3 separate regions of the Homo sapiens genome follow, and all the other regions are linked to region 2. Evidence: fine-mapped expression QTL. A gene starts in region 2. Each other region holds a variant in brackets. All regions are shown on one strand. Distances are from middle to middle.

The links. PIP is the estimated chance that this variant, and not a neighbour inherited with it, causes the effect.
Region 1: its variant is fine-mapped to the expression of DPP10 in lung (TOPMed, PIP above 0.99).
Region 3: its variant is fine-mapped to the expression of DPP10 in lung (TOPMed, PIP 0.97).

Annotation. Positions count from the first base shown.
Region 1 is chr2:114,679,356-114,687,355 of GRCh38, forward strand. The region is part of intron 1 of DPP10 (dipeptidyl peptidase like 10); the gene reads left to right. Among named protein-coding and RNA genes, the nearest start is that of DPP10-AS3, 150 kb to the right of the region's middle. The variant C/T (reference allele first, on the strand shown) is at 4,866.
Region 2 is chr2:114,438,038-114,446,379 of GRCh38, forward strand. It overlaps DPP10 (dipeptidyl peptidase like 10), which reads left to right and starts at 4,604. Exons shown (of 26, transcript NM_020868.6): 1 at 4,604-4,801. The coding sequence starts at 4,742.
Region 3 is chr2:114,770,224-114,778,223 of GRCh38, forward strand. All of the region lies in intron 1 of DPP10 (dipeptidyl peptidase like 10), which reads left to right. Among named protein-coding and RNA genes, the nearest start is that of DPP10-AS3, 59 kb to the right of the region's middle. RefSeq lists an enhancer at 1-74. The variant T/C (reference allele first, on the strand shown) is at 3,041.

The DNA.
Region 1 (8,000 bases), 240 kb after region 2:
GTTTTATAAAAGACCCTGCTGTTATTGTAATGGCACAAACTGGTATGCATTAGGCCCCTCTTGTTTATATTAGAATATTTATTTAGAACTAAATATTAGAGGACTCTTAGGCTAGAGATGCAATCCAGGAGGTGAGTTGCCTGTATTTTTTGCCCAGTTAGCTTTCTAAGAAAGTAGAAAAAAAATCTTTATTGTGTACTAGGAAAAACCTGATGTGGAAGAATAAGGGTCTGAAATCTCATACAGCTGCCCCACATGCAAGTTGTGTGTCCTTAGGTAATTTTCATAATCCCTTTGATAATTAGAACTACAAGAGAAATTTAGATAATCTATCATAAATTACTTATTGAAGATATTTCTGCTGGAATACATTTTTGAGAAGGATTTATTAAATGTCACCTTAGGGCTTTCTCACTGATTACAAGAATGCTTCAAACTAATATTATACAGTCTTAAAATTTTTAAGAATTGAGATGGCAAACTTCTACTACAGTACCCTTATGGAGCAAGGACTGGAGCTTCAGCATAGAAAACCTCTAGCTAAATAAGCTCACCGTATTCAAATGTGTTGACAAAGTGCAGGATATAGGAAACCATTCTGCAAGTCATGACAGGATTCTCCGCAGGTATTTTCCCCTAGGATATTTAAAATAGGATGTAATTGATGGAAATCAATTTGCAGAATCTTATCTCGAACACTTCTGTTGGCACATCTGTACTTTTATAGAATCGTCTCTTGAGGCTTATCTATTTCAGTAAAGTTTCTAAATACTGTAACGTCAGTGTCTAGGCTAAAGATATGATGGAGAGCATCTAAATTTAAAATAAGAGAGAGTGCTAATACGCAGGTATTAATAAAAACTTTTCATGTTCCTGCTAGTGATGTCCCTTATGGGAAACTCATGCAACGTTATTTCATGATGTTTATGATTTTGTAATCACTCTAAACTACAGAGCCATTTTCTCACTTTCTGAATGTGTTTATTATCAAAACAACATTATCTGATCTTATAAGACTGGGTCCTGTATTTTTTTAAGAGCTTTGAGAGTAGATGGCAATAATAGGTTCTCTCACCACTCTGGTTTCACATTGTTCCTTCTGTCTTAGAAGTGTAATTTATTCCCTAGATTCCTACTTTTTAAGAATTCAGTATTTTGCCTTTCTTCTTTAAAAGCTAATTGTGCATCTCTTCACTCTGTACAATGTTTTCAATTGAATAAAAACGTGTTAAAAGGTTAGTACAACCTGATGTTTAGGAGACCTACGAATATAGTGAAATAATTCTTCATAAGTGTAAAGTACAAATGGCCTAATGAATATAGTCCTGAAGAAAATGTAGTAAATTGACTTTTGAAAATAAGTTCACTCTTTTCAAGGTTGTTTTCATAGGCTATTCAGACATGTATTCAGGGAATCAGCCAATCAACCAGATTACAACTGAACTAAAATGATGAAACAAGCATGGTGTCAGGACCTAGAAAAACCATGTGACTAATACGTGGTCCCATAATCAAAGGCACTTATTTAGAAAAGAGATGATTTTGACTATTACCTGATAGAGTCCTCCATGTAACATGTACCTATTCCATGTTTTCTCATTTAAGATTCTCTTTTCATATTGTCCATATTATAAATGATATACCATTTTGTTCTGTATTTAGGTCATAATAATTAGTTTTTAATTAAGCTGATCTTCTCCAAAAATATCCTACCCAATTCTGCTCCAACTATTCCAGTTCTACCCCTTTTGCAAATTCCAACCTAAATCTTGCTTTTTCTGAAGTCTTTTTCAATGTTCAATCATATTAGCCTATCATGTTGCTTACTTTGAATTGCTCTGACATAATTTGTTTTTAAACACCATCATGCCATACAGTGCATAGTCCATTACAGTCTAATTTATGGATACGTTTTGCTTTACCAGTGATTCTCCTGATTCACTTAGATTCTTCTACTACCAAGAGTCTGGAAAGGAAATCCGCAACTCTCAAGCCAGTTTTCAATTCCCTTTGCTTTATCTTGTGAACATGATAAAGTTTCCTCCTTCTCTGATTCTTGATATTTTCTACTCTTAAAATAGCATTTATCATCTATTTCATAGGGACCAGATAGAGCCATAAGTTTACATGAGGAAAAAAAAGAATTGACTTTGTGTTAGCTTCCCAGTTCAGAGATTCTCATTACAACTGTATTCCTGATTGCCAAAAGGCCCTTTAAATGAAATGCCTCCTGTAACAAAGGGAGGCTCTATGTGGGCTGACTTTATTATCCAACAGCAGGGAATATCTGTGCATTGAAAAAAAGAAGAAAATGCTTTGAAAGAATACATTTTACAAAGCCGGTAGTAGGTCAGGGGAGCCTTTGCCTGACTCTACGTTAGAGTTTTTAAATTGCTTTTGGATGAGGACAGCCTATTTTTATTTCTTTGTCATCCAACATTGTTATGATAAATAATTAATTTGCTATATTTTATGTTTCTATCATAATCCATGTTGTGAGATCACTGTGGCATTTTGCTGTAATGATAAGAAGAAATAAATGGTGCTACAATGCTTAGGAAAGATTGTGTAATTTCCAGTGATGGACAGTCTGGGAAACTTAGCAAATGGCTGGCCTGGGTCTCACCTAGTAGAAAAAGCTCAGAAGAGATGAGTTAAAGCGTTGTCAATTGTTCAGTCCCATCCCTTCAATGGAAGTGCTGAAAATTAAGGCACAAGTCCTAAGCCCTGCTGTAAGATTGTACAATTCACAACATTTCCTAGACCCGGCAACATGACTCACAGATTGGTGCTGTCTCTGTCTCTGTCTCTCTCACCACTTGCTCTCTCTCCCCATCCTCTCTCTGAAGGGGAAGACTCCTTCAGAACTGTTTTTCTGTGTAGCATGGATGGAACTGGAGATCATTATGAATTTGAAATTAGCCAAATCCATTCTTAAATACCTCAGACTGACATACATCTTCCAAGGATTCAAGTTCCAGCTGGCATTTGAAAACATGGCTTTAGAGGCTCATTCAACCCTGAGATTCTGTGATTGCATGATATTCTAGTTTACCTTCATCTTTTCCATTTTTTCTTTTAAATGTAATAATGCTTCCAGTGTATATTAGTCACTGACAACTAATGAACTGTAAAACATTTTCTTATGCTTTCCATAGACCCATAGCTAGAGATGTTGACCCAGTGATTAATTCTAAATTGCAATCGATGGGTAATTATTATTATTATTATTATTATTATTAGGCTTTTGAATAATATTGAATATGTCCCTGAAGTTAGAAATTTTTCCCCACTTTCAAAGTGAAAGCCTGGAAAAATAGTTAAGTTGGTTCAAAAGAGCCAAGGATTTTATTCTTTCTTATGATACTATCCTCCCAGGTAAGATTTTATATCTATCTATCTATCTATCTGTCTGTCTATCTATCTATCTATCTATCTATCTATCTATCTATCTATCTAGATATAGAATCACATATAGATATAGATTTAATATCTCCAATTACTTGCAGAAATTCATGGAGTGCTGACGTGCTGAGAGTATGTAAATAGTACACCCTACCGCTGTTTAACCTTGTGGTGAAATCATGTGCACTCTTCAGGTCATGTTCCAGTACTTTAATCAAGTTTTCCATTTGGTAAACTGAAAGACCCTGTATTTCTAATGCTTTGCTAATCACTATAGGAGCAAACATTTATTGAATGTGTCTTATGGACCAGACACTGGTGATGATAAGAACAATTGTATTTATTCTGTTTCCTTGAATCGTCTTGGCCATACCTTATCGAGGTACAATATTTGCTTTCATTTTGCAGATGAGGAAACGTAGATTATGAAATGTTAATCAACTGACTCAATGTATGGTAAATTCTTTCTATCTTACTTTCTCCCATTTAGTTTTTTTCTTTCATTTATTGAACAAATATTTATTTAGTTTCCATTATGTACCAGATGCTGTGCTAAACATGAGGAATATAAGGATGAATAAAACAGAAGTGGTCTTGTCAAAAAGTAAGTGACGGAAATGGAATTCTCACCCAGGCCCACTTTATTCCAAGGATAAACTCTTCACCACCCAGTGTGCCTTCCTCCCTTCCTTCCAGCCTTCCTCCCTTCCTTCCAACCTCCTTTCCTTCCCTTCCCTTCCCTTTCCTTCCCTCTCCCTTCCCTCTCCCTTCCTTCCTTCCTTCCTCCCTCTCTCTCTCCCTCCCTCCCTCCCTCTCTCTCTCTTTTTCTTTTTTTCTTTCTTTCTTGCTTGCTTGCTTTCTCTGTGTGATTCTTCCTATATCACAACAAAGAATGCAATCATGACAGTGAATATGAGAGAAGGTTTTCTTCGTATCTGATTGACTAACTCCCTTCTACTACTTGAGGACAGTGCAGCTCAGCCCTTCTCCCCTCCCGTCTTGGATTTTCTTTCCCCTGCCATCCTAGCTGCAGAAAGCTCAGGGACATCAGCCCATTCAAATGGTGATATCCCATCTTTCAAGATTTAACCCCCTGTATCTTGCAAACCATCTCACTTTCCAAAGCCCCTTATTAAATTGTCCAAACTCGCTGTTTAAGTAAGACATGGCCATTTCCACATGACAGAATATAAACTGCTGATAGTTTTTGTATTGTATTATGGGGTAAAGGGACAAATCTACTGTGACCAGTGATAATACACTCAAAGATTCTCACTGCCTCAGGCACTTTCTGACCACCCTGCTCAGGGACAATCCATGTCTCCATACCCAGTAAGTCATGCACAGCATTCCAGATAGGGAAGATTCTTTGTGTTAATTCCAGTGATGGCTGGCTGTAGTGGGTTTTATTTTTCAGGTAACCCTGAGCCAGGCCCTGTGGGAACTGAAATACAAGTAGA[C/T]CTTCCTGTGAGTTCCATACAGAGATCTCTCAGGAACTTGCTCTTTTACCTCCCGGCCACTCTATGATAAGTGGAAGTTAAAGGAGTTGGTTTCACTCTACCACTACTTCACTGTGGTGCTCAGTGTGACATGTTCACCTGGTGTTCAGAGGTCTAAAAGAAATGAATTCTGCAGTACAGAGAGAAATTTTAAAAGGGAGAGACAAAAGGGGAAAAAACAGGATGAGGTTAGCATATGAAAGTGTTTTCTTTCCCTCCCTTTGGGCTGGTTTTACAATGCTAGTGTGCTAGTAGAATGGCTGCTTTCTTCAGCACTTTGTTAAAGGTCCCTGGTTGGGTAAGAAACTTGACTGCACTAGGACACATCAAACAACCAGCCAGGCTTTGGTCTTACCCAGGCACTGAAAAGCTGAGCCCTGTGCTCTGCTCTCCCATTTGCCACATTTTGCCGGATGAGTCTGGTATGCTTCAGACAAGCAGTTACACATTTCACGAAGGAAAGAGGTCGGTGGATGGAAAATTACTGTCATTTTTAGTGGGTGAAGGCAAAGAAGACCTACCTTCTCTTCCATTGTGAGATACTGTACAGCACCTTCGATTCATGTGCGTAGGTCTGAATTCTGTTTTCAGGATACTTAGTGTTGTGTTTGTAGAATTGAGGAGATGCTACCTAGGGGAGACCATGGAGATCCACTGAAGTGGCTGCGGCTGATTGTGATTGAATTTTTAAGCATTTACTGAACATTCCTAATTTGTCTGTATGGAGGTTAACAACAATTTCCTACAAACTGAGTCAAAAGGACATATTTTATTTTTGTTTGTACATGAACTTTCTGCATCGTCTGATGAAGACCATTATCCCCTCTTTCCAGATATCCTCATTTTCTTTCTTCTAAATGTCTGGTTGCCCTTTCTGAGAATTTTTCATTGATTCCTCTTTCTCTTCCTAGCTGTGAAATATTATACCAGGTTCCTTTCTCACCCTGCTCACCAACTCACTCCTTCCAACTTGTGTGTTAATTTCCTCACTCCCGTAACTCATGAGAAAAACAACAACAAACAACAAGATTTGAATGTGTTAAGCTGTACCCCATGCTGGGATAGTTATTTTGCCACTGACTCTTAGGAATCACTGCCTGATCCCTGCTACTCTAAATTCCTGTCTCAGTTTTTGTCAATAATTAAATAATTAACTTTTGGTTATAGAAAAACATAGACCTAAGACCTATGTTTACCCCAAAAGGGAACTAACGGCGTCCATTTCTCTCTCTGAAGCCTGAGACAATTTTCCGGAACTCCAGAATTAGCTATGTGCTTGCTAGTGTTTCCCATTTGATATCCTATAATCAAATGTGCAAAATTGAACTCATCTTTTCTTCACCCTAAACTCGCAATTCTGCTTATATTTCCATGTTTAGCAAATGTCACTATTAGCTATACACATGCTCTAATTAAAATATGGAAGTCTTTCCTGATTTGTTTCTTTTCCTAATACATTTTCTACCCAGTGATTGTGCTCCTGGTAATTAGTTTATTGACTTTGGCTCTGTCCTCTCCATCACTTGCCACCTTATTAAGACCCCATTATTCCTTGTCCGTGTGATCACAGAAGTTTCCTATCCGGTCTTCTTGCTTACACTGTTGGATTCTTCTAATGCATTATTCCCACAGCAGCTGCCAGACTTGCTTTTCTAAGGCATAAATATAGCCTATTTATCCCTTGATTTTGTTCTTTAATATTGTTCTCATAAGCAATTATTACAGCTGGCTCTACCAGTACACTGTATTTTCTTCCCTGAGTGCTACTTCCAGTTTCCAGTATAGGACATGAGCATGCTCTTCTGACCTGGAACACATGCAGGCTGCTTGCTTTCTCTACCTCACTAACTGCTAATCATCTTCAGAAGGCAAGGTGATGCAAGGAAAAGAGAATGCACTCTGATTATAGCCTCAGACTGAATTTCCAATCCCAGTTCTAAAACTTCTGAGCTAAGTGACTGAAAAATTACCTAACCTTGTTTAGTATCAATTTTTGTATCTGTTTTTCAGATAATAATAATAATAGTAGCTACTTTAAAAGGTTAGTGGATTGAGGTACATATGTAAAGTTATCTATTGGTTTGACTTCTTCAAGCAGCCACAACTAAGTTCCAGCAAACCAAAACAAACAATTTATTAACAAAACTCTATGATACTTCACAAAATTAAAGAAAAGAATGGCAAAACCAGAATATATCTATAGATGTAAAGAGCTAAAACTGAGGACATCATAACCCTAGGAATCCTAGGGTTTTTATCTCTGCTTCTAAGTTGCTTTTAATTCTTCATCTCCATGGCTCCAAGAGATACCATATACCTAGTTAGCCCCATCAGAAAAACTAGGGGCAATGACTCTGAATGGCCGAGCTTAAGTTATGTGGCTAACATTAGACTCATCCCTATGACAGATAGGATAAGGAGCATTAATTATCTCATTTTGGATCACATGTCTATCTGTGTGGTAGAAGACCTGAGCCAGGAAAAAACGCAATAATTGTAGTCAAGAGCTTCTTTGTCCAATGTACAATACATTCTTCCCATACAAAAAATTACAAGAGTCGTTCTATTTAACATAATTCAAGTATCACACATGCATTCATCCTCTTCCAAGTAGTAGAAAACTTAAAGTCATATCCAACTATTGCAACCAGAACCAAGTTTATAGTATCTCTGGGATGTGCATTCCTTTTAATTATTTGCTCATATGTTGCTCATTACCTTGCAATATATGAACAAAATCTATATGTTTAACCACATCTCAGACATGCATTATACAACAATGTTGAGAAAAACAAGAAAACAGCTATAAAAATTCCCACGTAGGATAGGGTTACAGTGGAATCCCCATATATCTGTTACTGGTTGAAGAAAATAATATATGCATGGACAAGAATAGTAAGGAGCAGACATTGGTTGGCTTGAACCTTTCCAGTTGAGTCACCATTGCTTATTTTCCCCATCTGACCTTTATGGTACTTCTTCTGAGCATTATTCTTTCTGGCTGCACCTGAGGGGGTCTTTAGGAAAGACTCCCTGGGGACTGTACATTTTTCTGTGCTTCTCTAGTGTAGTCACAAGGTGCTAACAGTTACTTTA
Region 2 (8,342 bases):
GAAAAGATATTAGGAAAGCCCTGTTGATAACAAGACACATAGGATAAAGAAGTTCTGTCTTATATTTACCTGAAGTAGCTTTGAAATTAACTTGTCACAGTCTATGGACCATTAAATATAAGCATGTTGGCATCTTAAGGTTGGATGGCAGAGATAGGCATATATCTCTGCATATGAAAAATAAGCAGCAGTAGGGTTATGGCTATCATTAGGGTTACTCAGAATGCTATTCTGATTTTACTGCTACTTGGGTGCATGCTGCACGTCACTTTCTTGTTACCTAAACTTGAATGTAGCCATGAGAGTGGCTTTAGCCAATGGAATGTAAGTAGAAGTGTTTTGTGTCTTTGCTGGGCATAAGCCTTTAAATAAGAGCATGATTTTTCATGTTTCTTTCCTTCTGCCTTGTTGATTGTGAAAGCTTGTATTAAGATGGGGCCTTTATCAGCCTGGATCCCTAAGATTGAAAGAGCCTCACGTGCTCTTCCTCCCGTGCCAACCAGGTATTGGCATGCTGTATAATGAGAAAGAAACCTTCATTATTTTAAACCACTGGGATTTAGAGATTACTTATAAATGTATTTATTTATTTATTTTTATTTTTTGAGATAGAGTCTCCCTCTGTCATTCAGGCTGTAGTGCAGTGGCACAATCTCAGCTCACTGCAACCTCCGCCTCTGGGGTTCAAGCAACTCTCATGCCTCAGCCTCCCGAATAGCTGGGATTACAGGTGTGCACCACCATGCCAGGCTAATTTTTGTATTTTTTTGTAGAGATGGGGTTTGCCATGTTGCCCAGGCTGTTCTCAGACTCCTGGCCTCAAGTGACCCACTTGTCTCAGCCTCTCAAAATGCTGGGATTATCAGTGTAGGCCACTGCACCCGACCTTGGAGGTTATTTGTTATTGAACCATAACTTTGCCTATCCTGACTCTGCAAGTGGTTTCCAGAAAAGATCAATTCTTGAAGACCATGAAGCCACAATTAGACCAGAGACTTCCACTTGAGTGAATCCCGGGAACAATCTGAAGCATAGAAGGTGTTACAAGCAGGGGTCAATCATGAAGAAAGATGTGGCAGGCAGGAGTTAGGTGAGGGTCAAGTCAAAAAAGCCAACCATTAGAAACCATATTCCAGTTCTAGTAGGAAATGCAAATGACTCAGTGGATGGGTCATGAGAAGACCAGAACACAGATGATAGGTGTTAAGATGAGGAGATGATCCCTCAATGGTCATGGAGGGATTTGAATTTTCTACAGTAGATTTCAAAAAAATCAGGGAAACAGCCCAATATCCTTTCAGATACCATTCTTATTGACTAGAGGCCTGGGCTTGCCTAACTTTGCAATCTGTAGGTCATCACTGTGACCAGCTAGTTAGGGCTTGGGCAGATGGGACTTGAAACAAAGAGACGGAAATTGGTAGTAGAATCCATCTGACACTTTGACTTTTTTTTTTTTCTAATGGGATATTTTCATTAACCCCATCCTAAATTTCTATTTCCCGGATCAAATGATAGCTGGTCAAGGAACATCGTGGGTTATATTTTCTGAAAGCGTTAGCCATCTTAATTTTTTTTGTGGGAAAGGTGGAAGGGACTCACTCCTAACTTTTCCCAAACTGTTTGACAACAACATATTTTTATACGGTTATCATAAGTGTTGATTACATTTGAAATTGGTCCTTTGGACTAAATTGTCTAAATTTTCTAGTTCAGTATGATTTACTGTATAGTGTTTCTTCAGCAGATCTAAACCTTAAAAAAAACTACTTCCATGTGACAAACCGTGATGCAATTTTGCAGCTGTTTTCATTCTAAACATATTGAGCCCAATATATCCCAATTAGAAGAAATGTATATGAATTATCCTTATTAAGCGGTATTTGTAATTCTCTAGCACTTGTCTAAATTTCTTTGGTCTCTATTTTCTTCTAGTTGTACATTCCAATTGGCTACATTAAGATACAGCAGATTTTACAAAATAATGAACAATTTATACATGTTTTAAATAGAAATGTTTAAAAATTACTATGGTTTTCATTTCCTTGATTCATGAAATGATAATATAACAGAAAGGGAAAACAAAATCCAAAATGAGATTTGGGTCATATGTTTTGCTCTGAACACTTGATTTTTCTTTGGAACTTGGAGTTTGATATAATGTGGAGCCTGGAAAGGGAGCATATGGTGTATACGAGGCACTCTTTTCTCTTACTGTGATTTTTCTCTATTTTCAAAATGCAACTTTGGGAAAAGATTTTAGGTGGATTCTGGCCACCTACCTATAAATGGTAGTGTCAATATCTTTCTTGGATCCTGCTGCCATCCAGGTGGGGGTAGAACCTTTTTGAAAAATTGTAGAAAAGGGGTGAAGTCTCATGTGATTATAGTTGTAGAAATCCAGCAACTCATACCCTCTTTGTGGTAGGCATATAAATGCTGTCTCTATCAATGTGCCTGGAGAGGGTTCCTTGAAGTACTAGTGGCTCCTTCCATCCTGTACAGTTCTTTGATGGGGATGGGATACTCTGAACTCTTGGACTGCTCTCCCTCCCTGGGCTCCCCAGATAATTTAGTTTGGAAGTTTCTTAGATACCTAGTACAAAGTGCTATCTAAGAAAGGAATTAAGCCAATTCTACTGGTATAGAACATTCATTTATTCAGAGATTATCAAACTGTAAACCACCTGATGAAATGTTCATAGGTTTTTTCATTGAGTATTTTGTATGTTTTTTACTTCATTACTTTCTTCTCTTCTCTTTATTGTTTCCCCCCTATAATTTATTTGAGTTTATTTTGCCATTCTTTTTCCAACTCTTTGATATGAATAATTAGCTTATTAATTATTAATTTTATGCTTTTCTGCATTTCTGGTATAGGTACTTAATTATATACATTTTCCTTTAAATATTGATTTAGCTGCATACTGCAAATTTTCTGTGTTGTTTTCATTATTGTTGAATACAAAATGTTTAAACATTTTTAATATACTCTTTTTGTGATTTATGAATTATTCAAAGCAATGCTATTCAAGCAAAATACAAGATAAGCCACAAATTCCAGTCACATTTGTGATTTAGAATTGTAAACTTCAAATCATGAGATTTGTTGGCCCTATGGCTGCCTCTGGTTGTGCTCAATATGATGCCTGGATATTGCTACACCAGATTCTTGCACACAGCCTTTTGCCTGGTTCTTATTGGCTCCATCTCTTTTCCCATGATTCTCCTGATTTCTCCAATACTCTTGCCATTAACTTTTGTGGCTGCAAACAGTCTGATCTTACTTCTGTCACATCCTTACCTCCACTTTGCTACTCAGAACTATAACCTTCTGAAACTTAGCCATCCTCAAACATGTGCAGACTACTTTGTCAGAATGTTTAGATCCCTTTTCTGTTTTACAAGAGAAAATATGTGTTTATAATTATGTATAAATTAATTTCACCAAACATTAATTTATTTCATTTCACATTAAAGTTTATCTGTAATATTTTAGGCTGTTCATAAAAGCCTCCTGAATGTAGTTCGTTAGTTCAATCTTATAAACCTAGCATTTCATTAGTAGGATACATTTCTGATGAATAAATACTGTTGGTTTTCAACATCAAACACTTTGCAACAAAAGTTGGAAAAGAGTGTCCTGCATTTACTCAAGACTACTGGATCTTATTTCCAACCAGGATATATTTATTCTAGTTAGTGTTGATGTGACAATGGGGACTGGTGACTCGGAAAACTTAATTTACAAATATTTATAATTTATTTTGCCTAAAATGACATTAGGGACAGAGAGGTGACCATTTGGGGAGTTAGACTGGCATGAGCTAACTACCAGTTTGTCCCAGGCATTCAAAAAATACGGCTTCAAGGAAAGCAATGGTCAAAAATAAAGGTTGAAAATAAAAACATTGTCTAGCTTTGGTGCGATATCCAAAAACTACAATAACTATTGTATTTGAAAACTTTTTAAATATACCTTAAGCTTTCTGCCACCTTACAGAAAGGACAGTCTCTTGGCTGGCTGTTATGGCTAAATTTTAAAAATATCCATAGGGAATATCAGTCCTTCAACCTATAGATATAAAACCCCCAAATTCTGAAACTGCCAACAGTCTTTTTTTTTTTTTTTCCACAGCATTTACTTGTGTTTTGATTGCAAGAAGTACCCAGGAAGGAATAAAATTTAGTAACAGAATGAGGATGTTATGATTTTTTTTTAAACTGGGTTAGGGGTGGGGAGAGGGAGAGAGAGAGAGAGAAATATTTTGCACTGGAAAAACTATAATCTGGAGAGACAGAGGAGTTGAGAGTGCCCCTTTAAACTGCAGGACTGCAATTGATCTCTGTATGTTTTCTGGTTTTCGTCCCTTTGAAAGGGGAATGAGAGCCAGGATCATTGGCTGTACTGTGGAGCTGTCACATCTCCATACTGAAAAGGTACACTGCAAGTGAATTTAAACCGTTTTTGGCTTTCTATTGCATATTGCCAAGAGCTTTGAGACTGATGAACCAAGTAAATGCTCTATTTAGGGCTAAGTGAGATACAGATTCCTCCAATCTGATAGCGTTTCAGCCTCCGGAGTGAGGAAGCAGCAGAAACAGAAGCAGCAGAAGCAACAGCAGTAGCAGCGGCAGCAGCAACAGCAGCAGCCCCTACTGAAGTCCAATAGAGGAGACTTGATCTCTAGTTCATTCTGGAACTCCGCCTGGGATTGTGCACTGTCCAGGGTCCTGAAACATGAACCAAACTGCCAGCGTGTCCCATCACATCAAGTGTCAACCCTCAAAAACAATCAAGGTAGGATCTGGTTTTTCCCTCTGCTTCTGCACATGTGTCTTCATTCATCTACCTAACACATGGGCATTGATATATCGGGGTACTGACAGTGGACATACCTACTTGATTTGAGTTTGAATTGAAGGTTGAGTCACAATAAAGCATTTGGCTCTGCATGTGTGTGTAGACTGGAAAGAATAGTTTCCACTGAACACTTCTTTCATCTTCATGACTTTTTTTTTTTTTACTGAGAATCTATCAGAGGTATATTTCCAGAAGAAAGTTTTGTGAGTGTCTAGAAGAGTTTCCAGTCCATGCCAATTTTCTTGATAGAACTGGGGAAGAATTTGCAAACTGCTAGAAATAAATAGCATCAAATTGACTACAAATCTGATAACAGGATTTCATTGTCATATGAATTTTGGATCTCTTATCCTTTTTTAAAAAAAGCTCATCCTTCATTGTGAGCATTGAACTGGTGGTTATACTAAAGTGATTATAGTGAGAGAGGATGAAAGACTAGAGAGAGAGTATAAAATCACATGTCTTTATTTATATCACCATGTAACTCAAAACCAGTGAGATGATTGGAGACACTCTTCAATGCAGGTGTTGTTTAAAATTTGAGGCTTTTCTGACAGCACATGGTTAAAGGTAAAGAACAAACTCACAATTTCACTCTTCTGTTTTAGTTTCAAGTCATGCTTATACCATTCTCTTTGTTTTTATTCGGGATGCTCTTATTTCCAAGAAGGCTTATAAACGACCAGACTTCCAATCAAAGTTTACTATATTTTGCCATTTACTTGAATTGTATTATTATCTATGTGGATATTTTGCATCTTGAGGGAAAGTGATGGATTCGTCTGAAACTCTTTTATGAAAAAAAAAAAAAAACTAAAACAAAAAACGTGATATCCTGACAGGGCATCTTTAGTTACTGCAATCTCTCATTAACATACAAGTGCATACCTTTTGCTACTATTCCTGATAAGCCTGACTTTTTATGATTTATATTATGTTTTGGTTTATGTCTCAGGCCTTTAATAATATTGCATAGACTGTAATTACAAAAGGAATATAATTTTCAACAATGTCTCTTCTTCATGAATTTACCTACCGTTTGCCAGAGTGTTTCAGTGATAGATAAACCATAAACTAAACATGTTCCTCTATTTATTAGCAGTGACTTTTAAAAGCAATGGGGTTTCCAGGGTATATTAAATGATGCATAATTAGATTCCCATCATACATAAACATAGGGAGTTAACTGAAATCATGCAGAACTCATATTCAGATAATTTACACCACCTCTAATAACAGATATGAGAATCTTTTTCAGCATTAGATTTTCTGTGCTGTATCTAAGTTTAGAAATAAAAAATGTTGAGCTTTTGGTATAGTTTTCCTCTGTGTATCAGTTTCCCACATACATCAATTATCTAAGCATATCACTGAACAAAGCCAAAATAGTAAATACATGACACTCTACATTGGGATATATAAGCTCTAGTGGGAAATATGTATTGAAGCCTAAAGTGGGATAGAGTTACAAACTGGCTGCCTACTGCTAAGTATGTCTAGAATGCTATAACAAAACCAGTGGCTTTCTGTTTAAGAGTCTGAGGTCACAGGAATCAAGCATTTATTTTCCCTTTTCTTTATTGAGTAAGCATAAATGACTACTACTTTCAGAGACTTCAAATCACTTCCTTTATTAGTGCTCTGGCATTGGCTGCCCACAAACAAACTGTGGAACAGAAAAAAAAATGTTTCTAGTGTAGAGGTTTTACATCATCTTGCTGATCTTGCAGATGCTGTTTTTTCCTTCTAACTGCAGCCATTGAGTTGAAATGAAAAGTATCATAAAAATTGGACAACCCACCACTTAACAATGTATTATATTAATGGCTTAATGAAGGAATCTTGAATCAAAGCTCTGGGTAATTTGGTTAATTGTACAAGTTAAATTCTTTTGTGCACCCCATTCCCAATATTGCTCTGGGGAGCAAAAAAATGCTTGTGATGTTCATAAAATATATATAGTCGCAAGCACTGAACTATTAAGGGAGTAATTACTTGAGTATTTTGCAATTTGCAATAGTGAAAAGGGATGAGTGGAAAATCTCTCTTAGTTCAAATTATGTGCTCAATTATGAAACATTTATGGCTTTTTGAATTTATACTAAAAATGGCTATCTATATTTAGGTAATGCATTAGCCTATGAACAAAATGCAATAACAATCTAAAGAAAAACTCTAAGATGAGAGGGTTTTGGGAAGCTGTGGGACATTGGAGCTCAAAATACTCTTTGAACTATTAGAATTTTAGTTTCAAGCATGGTTGTTTAAAGTTAATTTTATTCCTCACTCTTAAATTTACTATCAATTTACTATCAGATAATTTTAAGTAACCCTCCCTCATGGAATCTGGTTGGCCTGCAGGTAATGATAACCCACTTTGAGGATCTGGAAATAAATAACTTGCATATTGCTCCATTTTAGAAATTCAAAAACCTCTAGAGACTTTTCTCCCAAAGCTCAGTGTAATAACCTCTAGAGAACTTTTCCCCCATCAGTATAGTAAATGCTGACTGTTTCTTCTCTCAACAGTTAAACTACGGCTAAAAAGAATGCAATGGGAATGAACAAAAGTGAAATGCATTGCTAAAATAGCTGTAAAGGCCAAAAGTGTGCAGGAGGAGGAAAAACAGCTCTGTGTGTGTGTGTGTGTGTGTGTGTGTGTGTGTGTGTGTGTGTGTGTTCTCCTCCACTTGAAGTTCAAGAAGTGATGAAGTCTATAGTGGGTAAAATTCAGCAATTGTTGCCAGTGAAGGCTGTTTGTGGCCATGATGTGTCAGAGTTGGAAAAGAGGAAATTGGGAGAAGTTATAATGGAACAAGATGATCAAGAGTATTCAGGTTGCTTGACACTTGCTTTGGTCGTTCTGGCCATTCTTTAGCTCAGACAGTTACTGACACACTTTTCCTGGCATACTTTGGCAGGTATGTTCCTATCGTCAAAACCAGTAAGGGAGAGAAAAGGGAGTCAAATAGGGGTGCCAAGTGTGTTCTCAGATCACTTTGGGTGAAATGCTGAATGCAATTCACTCTGAAAACTTTCCTCCATTTCAGAGCTTGTAAGGGAAGAAAGCTTTTCCTGATGTGATTACAAATCTTCCTGTGAAGGTAGCAACATTCTTTTAAAAAAAATCTTTTACTCTGAGATGTTTAATGGAAAGTTTTAGGAAGTATCTGGGAATGCTAAATAGAGATCAGATCTTTGCGTTATTATAAACGTGATTTCTGAAGAATGTCCCCCACCATGGGTAGCAAACTTGAGTTTTTCCTTCACCATTATGGCTTCTCTTGGCTGCACTGAAAGTAAATTAAACCTTTCAGCTAAATCTCTGATCTTGGTTTACTTCTTTTGCTAGTGGAATTGCAAACTTAGAATTTTGCCTCTAAAATGTGCAGATTTTTTTCTTATTTCTTTCACATTTGAATATCAGTCTAGTATCCTCGTGTGTCTAAAATGAGTAGAGAAAATCCTTCATCCTTTT
Region 3 (8,000 bases), 330 kb after region 2:
GAGGGATCAGGGTTCTAATTCCATGGTTCAGTGCTAGCTAAGGGGACCTCATACCTCTAGAAGGCTCCTAGTAATAGCGAAAAGGGAGGATTTATATGATTGAAGAGAAGAACAATAACAACAGTACTGTGGTACTATTAATTTATTTTTAGGAATTACATTACTTTTTTACATTACTGTAGGAATCCATATACATGCTAGTAGTAATACTTCAACTAGATGGAAACATGAGAAATGGGGACATTCACACAATGGTGGTAAGAGAGTGAATGGATCCCAACTTTTGCAAAATAAAAATAGCACCGTGCCGTAAAACCAAAAATGTGCTTTCTCCTTTATTTAGTAATCTCAGTTATAGGAGCTTAATTTATATTTAAAGAGCAAATAAACACTAAAGGAAGACATGATACTTGCACATTTGTATAACTGGGGTGGAGGGAGCACATGGGCTACAAAATGTAGAAAAATCTTATACATCAAGCATAATTTTGGCCTTGAACAGTAATGCCATTGTTTAGCTCTGAATTTCTTTTATACCTTGAGTCCCGCTATAGAATTTTTGCTATTGTTCTTTCATCTGTAGGTCCCTTCTCTACAAGGAATAATCAGGATTCCAGGAACTACTCATATACTCAAAATTTTTGAAATGAGTTTTATGTCTTGGCCACATCTCCTTGATATCCTTCAGCAAGAAATATGTGGTTATAAAATCAAATGGGAAAAAACGACTGCAATGGTGGAAAAGGTTTTATTGTCAGATACACTAAAACACTTTGGATATGAATGTTATGTTTAATTGATATAAAAGTCTAAACACTTACCCACTGTGCTGTGATTATGGCCAGGGTCATTCTTCAGAGCTAATTCATTTAGAATATGTTAAGAAAAATCCTGTAAGCATCAGTAATTGAGGAAAATTGAACTCTTGAACTTTTGCCAGATATTTGGCTGTATGCATTTTATGTGTTAACTGAGAAGAAGCTGACAACTTGCTACATTCTGAAATCGTCTCAGTTGAGATTTGGGTTGCAGGAGACATTAGCCATTAGCCCAACTGCAGGGCTATTCACTGTGGCCGTATCATACCAGTGCTCAGGAGACAGCAGTCACACCTAAGAAGTATGTCCTTCCTCACCTGGACTGCTCTCATAGCAAAGCCACCTGAACATCCCTCGTTGTTTTACCAACCAGATTCATCATCTGCTTCCTGATTCGGCAACGAGCATCACCTGTTACCTGAGGGAGTCCATCCTTGTAAGAATAAGAAACTTGACTAAGCAAAGTTAGCATGTGGTTGCGTCTTCAAAGAGCACAAACGATCTTGTGAAGGCGATTGTTTGGATACCAAGAAAGATAAAGATCTCTTTCTATCTTTAGTGATAGCACCCATAGGTGAATAGAAGGAAGGAGGCTCCGTCTTAGCCGGGAGGAAACTCACTTGTTCAACATCACTGGAACTTCTAAGTTGAAGTGGAAAAGGGAGCATGTGATTTTCAACACTTCCAACACTTCCAAGAGTAGCATGTTTCCATAGTCATGCATAATCTCAGTCTGATTTGAGGCTAAGAAAATATTAAAAGTTTCCAACTCTTAAAAAGTATAGGAGTCCCACGGCCTGGACACATAGTAAAACACTTAATAAACACTTTAGATTTTTTTTTCCAAGGAAGCAGATTACGTCTTGAAACACCCTTTACTCTCAGGCCAGTATGGTACGGTCAGTAAGAGGTATCAAGTAAAATTAATTATTGAAGAAAATTCTTCATTCTAGAGTCTAAATAATTTCTCCTGAGATAATCTTTTTCCACAGTTATTTTATTATAATGGGATTACCCTAATAGTCTTTGCTAAAAGAGCTGAGATACATAAAATTATTTTTTCATAGTATAGAGTTCTAAATCTTTATGTCCTTATTTTATTTATTAATATTATTATTAATATTATTATTTTTGGAAAGAGAGTCTCACTGTGTTTTCCAGGCTGGAGTGCAGTGGCATAATCTCGGCTCACTGCAACCTCTGCCTCCCAGATTCAAGCTATTCTCCTGCCTCAGCCCACCGAGTAGCTGGGACTACAGGTATGCACCACCATGCCTCGCTAATTGTTTTGCATTTTTAGTAGAGATGGGGTCTCACCATGTTGACCAGGCTGGTCTCGAACTCCTGACCTCATGCGATCCACCCACTCGGCCTACCAAAGTGCTGGGATTACAGGTGTGAGCCACCGCACCCAGCCACCTTTTTTATTTTCTTTAAAAATCAAAACAGAACATATTTGACTTAGGCCTTTATCAGACAGAGAGAAGGATGCACATACCTAAGCTGGTAAATAATTATGTCATCCTCATTTACAGTATAGGAACTTTCTCCGTAATTATTGTACTTTGAGGATTAATTTTCCATATCTCATGTGTGTTCCTTAAGATTTCCACCTCATACCTTTTTTTTTTTTCAGCTAAAGCATAAATGTATTGACTCAATCTCAGTTTAAGAAGTAGGGTCAACAGAGCCTTAGGACCATCTCCTGGTGGCTAACCATGAATTGTTTCCTTTCATGATTTTTTTAAGCACATGTTGAGTTAGATGCCAAGATTCTGAAACCAGATGGAGCTGACTCAATGAGCTTCCATTTATGTTCCAGCATGCCAGCATTAGCTGGGTTCCAGCAGATACTTAAGTAATGAGATTTGAGCAACATCTTCCCCAAAGTATTATCTTCTTTAGCCTATTGTAGTTTATGAAATTTGGGGGATTAAAATCTGGCTTAGAGAGAGTAGGTCACTTCAATTCTCAAAGCCTTCATTTTCTTATCTATAAAATGAAAATAACAAAACCTACTTCATAAGGTCTAGTAATGATTACATTAGAACATCTGGTAGAAGAAGCCAGGCAAAGTGACTACATGCTGTGTTATTTCTTTTATGTGACATTACTGAAAAGACAAAACCTTAGGAAAATATTAGATCCATATTTGCCAGTGATTGGTAGTGGGAACAGCAGACTGACTAAAAAGGGGCACAAGGGAAATTCGAGGAGTGATA[T/C]GCTTTTTGTCTATCTTAATTGTTATGGTAGTTACACAACTATTTACATTGTCAAAACTCATCACGGACTTTTAGTTTATACAAATTATAACTCAGCAGGCCTGACTTTTTAAATGAACACTCATCACGGACTTTTAGTTTATACAAATTATAACTCAACAGACCTGACTTTTTAAATGAACACTCATCACGGACTTTTAGTTTATACAAATTATAACTCAACAGGCCTGACTTTTTAAATGAACATATGTAATGGGTTTCACACACAATGCAGACTCAATAAACAAGCCCTGCTCACAACTTCTCTCAAAGGAGCCAAGCACAACAGGTACTTAAATTAATGTCCTTTACATTGAAAGGTATTATATAAAACCAAAGCAAGCATTTTCCATTTTTAACACATTTCTAAGGCTTTTGCATTTCCATAAAGAAGGCAGTGATGACTCATGATGTGATTTTAAGAATCTGAACTTACTAAGGTCCCTTGAAAGTAACCACAAAAAGGCTAGATCTAAAATATATTAAAATCCATATACAATTAATTGTAGAGTGATTCATATAGATACAGTCTCTATTTTGTATTGCTTCTTTTTTAAATAGTTATCTGCTAGTGAACAAAAAAATAAATATATACTTTTTGATATTTCAAATAGATATCAAAAAGTATATATTTATAGCTTTTGAAGTATAACTTTTAAACTTTATCAAATATAAAAGTATATATTCTATTTGATATATAGGTATGTGTATGTATATATGTATATTTATTTGATATATATGTATTTGAATAGAAATAGAAAGTGAATACTAGTAACCTGATGGCTAAGAACGATCACATATTTATATGTATTCATTCAACACATGCACTGTGGGTTGTATTCTGTGCCAGGAGATGAGGATGCAGGGATGAATAAATAGTATTTCTGTCCTCAAGAAGCTCATACTTTATAGTGATTTAGAGACATGTATGATGAAATTGACACTCTAATGTGAGTCTGAACAATTTTTAGGCAAGCAAATGCTCTTCATGCACTACATTCCATAACCAACCTATGCACAGCAGTAAGTGGAGTCTTTGGGGCTTGGTTTTTGTTACCACGTTTGTTACAGAATGCCATATTTGGACCTATGACAAAAAAAAAAGTAATCTTAAGTCAGGCTTGCTTATTGGAGAATAAAATAGAATCATGAGGTAGGAGATTTGGAGGGACTCTGTTACAGTCAAATAATTTTATTTTAAGGAAAGCAGATTTACTCCTTAACACTATCTTAAAATCAGGAGAAAATGTAAGAAACTTTCATAAAATATTTAATATAGTTTCAAAGTTGTGAGCGTATCACTGTTCAGAAGTTAACTGCAAAACAGAGATGACTATATTTGCCATAATTATCAATAATGATGTATATATATATATATACTCTATAGTTACACTGGGATGAGCATTAATGGATTGGTAATGAATGAACAACAGCAATGATTCAACAACATTAGTTGGCTAAAGCTTCACAAGAATAAGGAAAACACAGCAGGAACCTTATAGAGGTAAGTGAAGCATGAAATTCAGTTACGTCTTTGACCTAATAGCATTAGGTCAAAGCCTTTCAACTTTATCTCTTTACTAATTATGGAACGAACCCTGTTTAAACTCTTCATACCATATAATTCTCTAAGCAATTCTTAGTGGTAGTTATTATTATTCACATTTTAGCGATGAGAAAATTGAAATCCAGATAGATCAAGTGACTTATCTAAGATAACCCAACCAGTAAGTGGCAGAGATGGAATTTGACCTCAGCCAATCTGGGTCCTGGTCCCCACCCTTGACTCTGTATGATACAGTGTTACAACAAGAGCATGGGTAGAGATGCAATTAGAAGGTAAGAATTATATCTGCAAAATCTTGATTAGTCCTAACAATAATAATGTAGTCACTACTGTTAACCCAACTTGATGCAGGCTAATAGCTAAAGGTCATAAAGTGTCCAAAGAAAGATTTAGTAGTAAGTACAATATCCCAGGAGAATCTACCTCCAGAGTGCAAGTCGTTATACTACTCAAGTTGATATCTTCCAATGTAGGTGTCTAAAAGCCCTTTCTAGTTCTGAATTTCACTGATTCTAAAAGGGAGTTTGTGGTTAGTATAGCTGGTGGGGGTAGACTTACATTGCTGCCAAGTGCAGAAATACACTAAAGCCATGCACAGCAACTCAAGGGTCAGCATTTTTGTCCCACTTCTGGGCATCCTGAAAATCCTTTCTTCTTTGAGCTTCCTCAAAATCTTGTATAAACTGGGCTTAAACTAGGTAGATCTCAGCTGGAGGGAAAGTTCTAGCAGGCTGAGGAAGCCTAGAAAGTTTGCATTCTCTAAGCAATGTTAGCATGAACTCTTTGTACTCATTACTTCTTAGTATATGGCAGCAGCTTCAGAAAGGTGAGTCAGGAAACATTCACATTCCCAACAATTAGAATGTCACCACTCTTTGTTCATTCTTTTGAATTATAGTCAAGAAGTGTCTTATTAATTCAACACAATGCATAAATATATCTTGAGTATCTCCAATGAATCATGTACTGTTCAAGCCTCTGGCAATACAAACAATAAAAGACACTCCTACGTCTCAAGGAACTATCACTTTGGGTGACAGAGAGAGACATCTAAACAAATATACTTACAATGTTGGTAATACATTCATGGAGGCACATGGGAAGGACCCAGAAGCAGAGGAGGTTCACTGTGCTTGGATGCAGATAGCAGGAGTTAATATGGAAGAAGTCAAGAATGTCTTCCCAGAGATGGTGAAAAACAAAATGAGTTTTGAAGATATGATGGGAAAATACACTGATTTTTAGATATAGCTCTAGATAAAAATAAAGAGACAAAGTGTTACAGGTAAAATTAGCTGCAGATACATCTTAGTTGTCATGTAGTTGATCCAATTGAGTGAACAATTGAACAACAATTAGAACACAAACAAACCTCCATGATCTGAGGCCTGCTGAACTCTCTTTTCTGACAGCCCTTCCCACTGCACATTGGATATAGAATGATGCCATGGCATTCCATGCATCCATGCCTTTGAACACACTATCTCCTCTGCTTGAATGACCTTTGCTGCTTATGTAGAAGGAAAAAACAGTTACATTCATACCTAAGGTTCCAGAGCTTCCAAGACCTTGTCAAAGAAAATAGACTCCTAGCTTTTCTCTACTGAATGCAATCTCCGTTATCAGGCCATAAGCTCCTTAGGAGCTAGCGCTAGATCTGAGTGAACACTGCCAGTAGTGTGATGAATTTGGCTTTTATAGGCTCAAAAGAAATATTGTTAAATGTACAACATTTTTTGAGCCATTTGTTAAATTTTTGGCAGCTTGAAGTCATCTATGGTGGGAGCTGACAAACACTACATTAAAAAAAGATCAAAAAATTTGTTGGATAAATTACATTAGAGTAATTTTTAAAGTCACATATTCAAGTTGTAGTGATTTAAATTAAATAAAGTTAGTGCAGATTATAAGAATTGATGAGTATTGAATTGATGAGTATTGGAAAAGGGGATGAGTGGAGACACCTCTCTGAGCAGTGTGAGTTTTGAAAAGGAAATCAAATTATTAGAGAAGATAATGGTAGCCAAAAAGACTTTCTAAGGATCAGTGTTCTCATAATTAAAAAAAAGAAGGCATAAGAATTTCTGCCAAACATACTTTTTCAAAAATAAAAAAGATATATGAAAATGTTTTATAAACCATGTAGTACATAACTATATAATATATACATTATATAGTGTATAGTTGCAATTATTGGACTAAAAGCAGTTAATACAGGCTTTACATATGTTAAGACTTTTATTCAGAAGTAAATGAAATGTACTCTTTGAGAATGGGTATATTTTATTGTTTTTTATAACCATATTCTCATTTATTTTTGAAACTCTTCTTAGAATAAGAAAAGAGTACAGGAAGACCAACAAGTCACATTCAAACCTTATAATTCTGCAGCCTAGGAAACACTGTCTTGTGCTGGAAATGGCTTCCTTTCTTCCTGGTCCAACTTTTTTGAACTGCCCATGGATTTTGCACTGTACAAATCACAATCCTTAGAAATATATTACCCACATACATTTCTGAAGAGGGTTTTCAGGGCCCTTTTTTGAGTATTACTTTTGGATATATTATTCCTACTAAATTATATTTCTTCCAGAAAAAGTTTTGAAAAGTTGGCAACCTCCCTATTTCAGTCCTTCATATTATGCCACTTGTTACAGTCATAAACAGCAAGGAAAGAAGGAAGTTTGACCAAATGCAAATGGCTGGGAAGAAGTAGCCCTTTCAGAGTTGCTGAATGTCTCGTGTGAAAATGCTTTGTGGCTGAGCTTAAGAAATAAATATAAAGTAGTATTTAAATCCTCATCTCAAAGCTTCTATCAGTAATAGATATGAAGCCCAAAGCAGTAAATGTTTAAATGACTACTTTACATCTCTTAAATGCAGTGTTATGTCCTGGCTATATGGTAATGACATCATTAAACAGAAATCCTTTGAGCCGCAGAACCAAGATGCTTTATAGTAAGTTCTATGAAGTTACATAGTCAAAGAGTTCACTGTTCTTTAAGTTAGACTCATATCCGCAATTTTATGACAGGTTCTGCTTAAATAATTGTAGGGTAGTGGTAAAGCATGGACTTTAGGGTCAATAATCTGAAGATCTAAATTTGAATTTGTCGTGTCTTTCATTAGTTAGCTGACATTCTGGATTTCAGTTTCAAGACCTTTAAAATGGGAATAATAGCAATCATCTTAAACATGTCCAAGAAAGAGTGAGACAATTAAATAAATACATTACTAAGAAGGGCTATAAATGAAATGTTATTATAGGTATTAGCATCATCATTATCATTCATTACCCTAATCATTATCATCTTTAAGCAATATTAAGGGATGACACTTACAGATAGACTGAGT